2 linked regions of the Homo sapiens genome follow. The protein of the gene in region 1 purifies or fractionates together with the protein of each later gene. This does not show direct contact. Each region holds a gene or a part of one and is shown in the gene's direction. Other genes may lie near its edges.

What was found.
Region 2: the proteins of RIPK1 (region 1) and TAB1 purify together in Homo sapiens (affinity purification with mass spectrometry; 3 studies listed by BioGRID and IntAct, with this or other methods). This does not show direct contact.

What each region holds. Positions count from the first base shown.
Region 1 is NC_000006.12:3,106,494-3,109,993, forward strand, and holds part of RIPK1 (receptor-interacting serine/threonine-protein kinase 1), read left to right. Parts: exon of another isoform or gene 1-298; intron 299-1,308; exon of another isoform or gene 1,309-1,404; intron 1,405-2,808; exon of another isoform or gene 2,809-2,903; intron 2,904-3,500. UniProt on the Homo sapiens protein: Serine-threonine kinase which is a key regulator of TNF-mediated apoptosis, necroptosis and inflammatory pathways.
Region 2 is NC_000022.11:39,416,780-39,420,279, forward strand, and holds part of TAB1 (TGF-beta-activated kinase 1 and MAP3K7-binding protein 1), read left to right. Parts: intron 1-11; coding exon 12-98; intron 99-931; coding exon 932-1,070; intron 1,071-1,952; coding exon 1,953-2,066; intron 2,067-2,739; coding exon 2,740-2,851; intron 2,852-3,500. UniProt on the Homo sapiens protein: Key adapter protein that plays an essential role in JNK and NF-kappa-B activation and proinflammatory cytokines production in response to stimulation with TLRs and cytokines.

The sequences.
Region 1 (3,500 bases):
TATCTCTATCAGGTGAAGTAAAAGGTAGGTGATAGTAGTTACTGGCAGTCTAGAATGGAAGTGAGTTAATGTAATATCCAGCATTTTTATCAAATAATACTCACCAACATCACCTTAACTACCTGAACAGCATCTACCAATGATACCCACAGGTGTCCTGGAGATCTTGAAATCATCTCAGGTAGAGGAAGCTTTCAGAACCACAGAGCTTAGTTACATTTTCTTTCAAAAGGCCAAATTCTCCAAAAACGTCCTATGCAAACATCCTCGATTTCTTCCATAGGTTTTATGATAAGATCTGTAGAATGCAAAATATTGGATTAGACATTAAGCAGTATCCAAGTCATGTATAATCCTATGAGCAGAATGTCCTTTTGTTTCCTTCATGTTGGGGATAAAATTTTTTATTAGTATTGCCATATCATTTTATTCATTCATGATTAAGTCAATAAAAATTTCAGCTGGGGCCATGGTTGGCCAGGTGTGGTGGCTTATGCCTGTAATCTCAGCACTTTGGGAGGCTGAGGTGAGTGGATCACTTGAGGCCAGGAGTTCGAGACCAGCCTGGCTAACATGGTAAAACCCTGTCTCTACTAAATAATACAAAAATTAGCCAGGCGTGGTGGCGCATGCCTTTAGCCCCAGCTACTAGGGAGGCTGAGGCAGGAGAATCACTTGAACCCTGGAGACAGACGTTGCAGTGAGCTGAGATCATGCCACTGCACTCCAGCCTGGGCAACAGAGTGAGATTGTGTCTCGAAAAAAAAAAAAAAATTCCACTGGCTGGGCACAGTGGCTCACGCCTGTAATTCCAGCACTTTGGGAGGCCGAGGTGGGAAGATCACGAGGTCAGGAGATTGAGACCATCCTGGCTAACACGGTGAAACCCCGTCTCTACTAAAAATACAAAAAAAAAAAAAAAAAAGCTGGGCATAGTGGCGTGCGCCTGTAATCCCAGCTACTTGGGAGGGTGAGGCAGGAGAATCACTTGAACCCGGGAGGCAGAGGTTGCAGTAAGCCGAGATTGCACCACTGCACTCCAGCCTGGGTGACAGAGCGAGACTGTCGCAAAAAAAAAAAAAAAAAAAAAAAAATTCCAAAACTCTTCCCACTTTGTGACGTGCAGTTCTCCAGGCACTGGAGCTATAACTGAACAAACAGCCTGAGTCCCTTCCCTCACACAGTTTAAATCCTAGTGGACAGAAGGCAGACCCTAAACCAATATTTAATGTGTCATTTTTTATCTTTTTTCTACATGAGCAACCCAAATACACCCGTTTAGTGCCAGAAATCTCTTTGTGTTTTCACCTCGTTCTGGTTCCTGGTTCTGCCAGTGACAGATGTACAGGGATGCAGCTTCTTCAGGGTTCTGAGATGCTTTCAGTGGGAAAGGGGCGCTTGGATCTACAATAGATAATAGAATTTTCTGTGTTTCTGCTCCCAAAGATGATCCTGCCAGGTACTAAGCTAGTAAATGAACACGCTGAGTTTCTCCTTGCAAATTTAAATAAGTCTTCTGCTTGCTTTTATCATCAAAAAGTCCTAACTCTATACCAAAATATGAGTTTTCTAATTTGCCATACCATAGAAGAAGGGTGTGTATGCAGTAAGTACAAAAGGAAAATAAATGTCTTCCTTTCAGTGAAAGAGCTCTTAGACCCACTGCTTTTTATTCACTGTGCTGCTTGAAGTGAGGTTAGAAAAGGAAAGCTCACTGGGCTAAGAGTCAGGAGACCCAGGTCTAGTCCTGCTTGTGCCGGTCACTATATGGGTGACTTTGGGAAAGTCATTTGCCTCTCCAGAGTTCATTCTCCTCAATTATAAATGAAAATGTTACAACTGAAAATTTATATATTATCAGCTCTAGTATGTTTCTAGTATTGCATTCGTTTCTCCACTTCGTAACTTTCATGGTTTTTCCAGTGGTCAGATTTGGGCAGAAAGCACTGATTCAAGAACACAGATTTCCAAGTAGAGAGGTGCAGGGTAAATAAACCTCCATGTAAGCCCGCGGTGAGCGCAGACTGTGAGTGACGAACACGGTGTCAGTGTAAGCTGGAGGTGGTGGGCCAGGAGGATTAAACAGGGTAAGGCAGCTTACCACTGTGCCTGGCGATGCGCAGAGTAAGTGCTCAGTAAACGGTAGCTGCTGTTATTAGCACTGTTATTATCATTGTCAGCAAAGAACACCTAGACAGCCTTGAGCACTGGAAGGCACCTCAGAGACTGTCACAGGGGTTCCTTGCTAGGATTCCAAGGACCCCAGTTTCAGCAGCTTCACGAACACCCTGAATTGCACACAGATGGCGTGTGTGTGCACATCCTATATTTCTTACACCTTTCAGTAGAGAGGGTCCCTAGTTTCCTTGGCTTCCTCAGAGAAAATGTAACAAATGAGCACAGTGCCTGGTCCAGAGGGTGGCCTACCTTAGGGCCAGGTGTGCTGACGGAGGTACCTTGAGCTGATACTCATTTCCCTCCCTCCTCAGAACTGTCTTCTCAACCACCTTCTCTCTCCTACAAAGATATGCCAAGTGCTCTTTAGGGACAGTACCAACACTTGACAAATTCAGCTCAGCATGAATGTCATTGAGCCCATGCCCCGTACCAAGGCCCAGGCTAGCGAGTGTAAGGAGTACAAAAACAAGTGGGTGTGGTCGCTGCCCTTGGGACTCACATTCTAGTGGAGAAGTCAAACAGACCCAGCTCAGATACAGAGCGGCGCAGGGCAGAGTGCTGAGTCTAGGATTACAGTGCAGGCTCATGGAAGGAGGTGGAATTTGTGCTGGGCCTATGTCAGAAACTCACAAGCAGGGAGAAGCACGTGGGGAGGTCAGCAGTCCAGGCAGAGGCAGGAGCATCATGTCAGCAGATCGGTGGGAAATCTGGTGGGACTGGAGTCTCTGGAGTGGAGACAGGGAGGAAACAGTGAAAGGAAGATCAGAGACAAGAGGGTAGGGCAGAGCTGTGGCTAGCTTCTGAATACTGAACCTGAGAGGTTTGAGTTTATCAGGTAAAGGAGGAGGACCCTTCACAGATGCTGTTCAGAGTCGTGGGATCCCGCTGGGAAGTGTGGCTGAGCTTTGCTGTGTTGTTCATCCACTTCTGTTTTCTGACTTGGTGTTAGCCACATTTTTTTATGGTAAAATTCAAAAACATAAAATTTACCATTTCAACCATTTTTACAGTGGCATTATCTAACATTCACAGTGTTATGCAACCATCACCACCATCTATCTATATAACTGTTTTAATCTTGCAAAACTAAAACTCTGTATCCATTAAACACCAACTCCCCAGCTCCCCTCCCAGCCCCGGACAACCACCATTCTACTCTCTGTTTCTGTGACTCTGACCAGTCTAGGTACCTCATGTGAGTGGAACCATGCAGCATTTTTCTTTGTGGCTGGCTTCATTCACTTAGGAAATGTCCTCAAGCTTCATGCATGTTGTAGCATGTGATGTGATTCCCTTCCTTTTCAAGGCTGACTATTCCATTG
Region 2 (3,500 bases), on another chromosome or scaffold:
TGTCCCCCTAGGCCTTCGATGTGGTGGAGAGGAGCTTCCTGGAGTCCATTGACGACGCCTTGGCTGAGAAGGCAAGCCTCCAGTCGCAATTGCCAGAGGTAATTTCCCCAGCCGACACCCAGGGGAGTCAAGTCCAGGCCCAGCTTTGCAAGGAGCATGGACTCATCTACTTTCTTGACATTACTGGGCCAGAGCAACAGGCGTTAGGGAGCAGTTCCTGATGGGTGACACTGGTGTGTGGCCACAGGTGAGGGACCTCGCTGCTCTGCTGTGGGCAGCTGCATGCTAAAGCTCAGCAGTGTCTGGGCAGTGGTGGACATGAGGAAGGGCTTTTCCCAGTCCTTCGTCCTGAATGGGTCCCCGCCCTTGTCAACCACCTGCTCACATCGCCTACTGCCACCTGCAGCGCTTACCTCTGTGCTGTGAGTTCGGTCATCTCCAGCTTTCTGGAAGAACCTTAGCCTGGAGCTGTAGCGAAGGCTTCATCTTGGCTGTGCCATGGACCATCTGTCTGTCTGTCCCCCGGGCCCTCGGATCTTTGCTCTTAAGAGCAAAGGGAGGCCGGGCATGGTGGCTCACGCCTGTAATCCCAGCACCTTGGGAGGCCGAGGCGGGCGGATCACAAGGTCAGGAGATCAAGACCATCCTGGCTAACATGGTGAAACCCCGTCTCTACTAAAAATACAAAAAATTAGCTGGGCGTGGTGGTGGGCGCCTTGTAGTCCCAGCTACTCTCGAGGCTGAAGCAGGAGAATGGTGTGAACCTGGGAGGCGGAGCTTGTAGTGAGCCGAGATCATGCCACTGCACTGTAGCCTGGGGGACACAGCGAGACTCCATCTCAAAAAAAAAAAAAAGAGTAAAGGGAGTGGAGAGGGCTAGGAAGATGGTCCAGAGTTCTGTCCTGCCCTGACCCTCTGTTGATGGTTGTAGGGAGTCCCTCAGCACCAGCTGCCTCCTCAGTATCAGAAGATCCTTGAGAGACTCAAGACGTTAGAGAGGGAAATTTCGGGAGGGGCCATGGCCGTTGTGGCGGTCCTTCTCAACAACAAGCTCTACGTCGCCAATGTCGGTGAGCCCCCTCCTGTCCCAGGGCAGGGAGGACTGGGGAGAGGTCAGCCACAGGGGTCGGTGCATTATTTGACAATCTGCTTTCCAGACACTTCACGCACTTTAAACCCAGGGTCTCCTGAGACCGTTGGGTATGTCCCTCTCCACAGTGACGCCTCAGTCCCAACTGGAAGGGAGAAAGGACGGGATGGGAGACAGGTGTCCTGGCCTTTAGTCCCTATTCTGCTTCTTAACTCATTCTGGACGAGTCGTATCCCATTCTGGGTGGCCTTGGGGGCCGCTGCTTCTGGAAGAGGTTACCTGGCCATGAATAACCAACCAGTATCCCCATGAACAGCTGCGAGATGGGGCTAGGTGACAGGGACATTGGGGTTTGTGAGAAGACCAGACAGGTGCAGGTTTCAGTAGAAAGGACTCTGTAGAGACCCTTCTGATGATGCTGCCTTTTTTTAATACTCCAGTGGAAAATTTTCCACAATATAGAACAATAGAGTGACTGATATTTAATGAACATTCATGCGCCCATCCCCAATCCCAGCAGTTATCAACTGTGGCCAGCCTTCTTTGTCCCCACGTTCTCTATTTTGAAGCAAATGCCAGACACTGTATCATGTTATCTGTAAATATTTCAGTCTGTATCTCTAGAGAAGAGGTCTGTTTTATTAAGATCATAATCCTATGATTACACTGAAAAAGTTAAACCCAATTCTTTCGTATCACCAGCTGTCCCTAACTGGTGACTCACCCCGTTGGTCTGAGCCTGTTTTGCCCATTTCAGGTATTTCCATGTGTGAAATGCCTGCCTTTTCCCTCTCTGCCTTCCCGGTATGCCCTATTTCTCTCTGTGTGTAGTCTTTGCTTAGCTGTTCACATTCTGCCACAGGTACAAACCGTGCACTTTTATGCAAATCGACAGTGGATGGGTTGCAGGTGACACAGCTGAACGTGGACCACACCACAGAGAACGAGGATGAGCTCTTCCGTCTTTCGCAGCTGGGTGAGTGGGGAGAGTGGGAGCGGAAGCTGATCCCCATGGGCTCACCCTTCGCCTGCCTTTGGTGGTGGGGTAGAGAGGCGTGTGGTAGAGGGGCTGTGATCTTGGGCTCCCCAGCCAGCCTGCCTGGGGTTCATTCCCAGCACTGCCGCTTACTGGTTGGTGATTGGAACTTAAGTTTTCTGTGCCTCAGATCCCCCGCTGTGTAATGAGGATAATAGTAACCTACCTCGGGATGCTAGGAGGATTCAGTTAGTGCATGTGAAATGCTTCCTGGAGTGCCTGGCACACAGAAGACACTTACTGTTATTGGTGGAGACTGAAAGAGGCCAAAGAAGTCCAGGGAGCCCAGCTGCTGCTGAGCTGCTCCTTCCCTTCCCAGTGAGCTCCAGGCAGATGTGGGGCACACGGGATGGGCAGGGAGACGGCAGGCAAGCTGCTCCGTGCCAGGTGGTGCCTGGAGGACGGGCTCTGAGTGAGGTGTGTCGTGATGGGCGTGGGGACTGAGGACACCAGGGACTTTGGGTCAGCTGCTCTCCCAGGTGCCCTGGTGTTGTCTTCATTTCCTATTCAGTGGGTCCTTATTGCCTTCTTCCCATGACTGTGTCTCTGTCCCCTTCTTTTTGTTCCTCTTTGTGAACAAGAAGCAGGATTGTTGCACTGTTTCCCTCCGTAGGCTTGGATGCTGGAAAGATCAAGCAGGTGGGGATCATCTGTGGGCAGGAGAGCACCCGGCGGATCGGGGATTACAAGGTTAAATATGGCTACACGGACATTGACCTTCTCAGGTAGGTGCCAGCCCAGCTGTCCCCTGTGCTTGAAAGAACAGAAGGTCCTAGGGAGGCCAAGATGGGAGGATTGATTGTGCTGGGAGGTCGAGGCTGCAGTGAGCCGTGATCATGCCACTGCACTCCAGCCTGGGCAACAGAGCAAGACCCTGTCTCAAAAAAAAAAAAAGGTCCAGAAGGCCTGGGGCAGACGCAGACTGTAGGCCCCAGTGACACATGTGCAGTCAAAGTAGTTCAGAGCCCAGGCAAACTCTTTCTTCCTCCCAGAGAGGTTGGTTTGGGGCAGGTTAGGCCCAGCAGGCCAGGAGTTGGGTACTGTAGAAACAAGGGGTGGAGTTGAGCTGGGCCAAAGCTGAGGGCAGCAACTAGTGCCACAAGGGAGGCAGGCGAAGCCAGAGTTGGCATGGGATGGACAGACCAGGCCTGTTGGTCGGTGCTGCCCATGGCTGCAGCAGAGGTGTGAGATGAATTGTGTATTTCCCTCTGAGGACACCTCCTCTGGACATCACCCCAGCGCTCATGGCAGCAGAATGGGCAGTCATCATCACACGGCCAAGCCCGTGCAGAGCTCTGGATGTACCTTCTTTTATGCATTCCCTACTCAGGCCCCCTGAGGCAGTCACTGCCATCACCCCAGAGGCATTTTCAT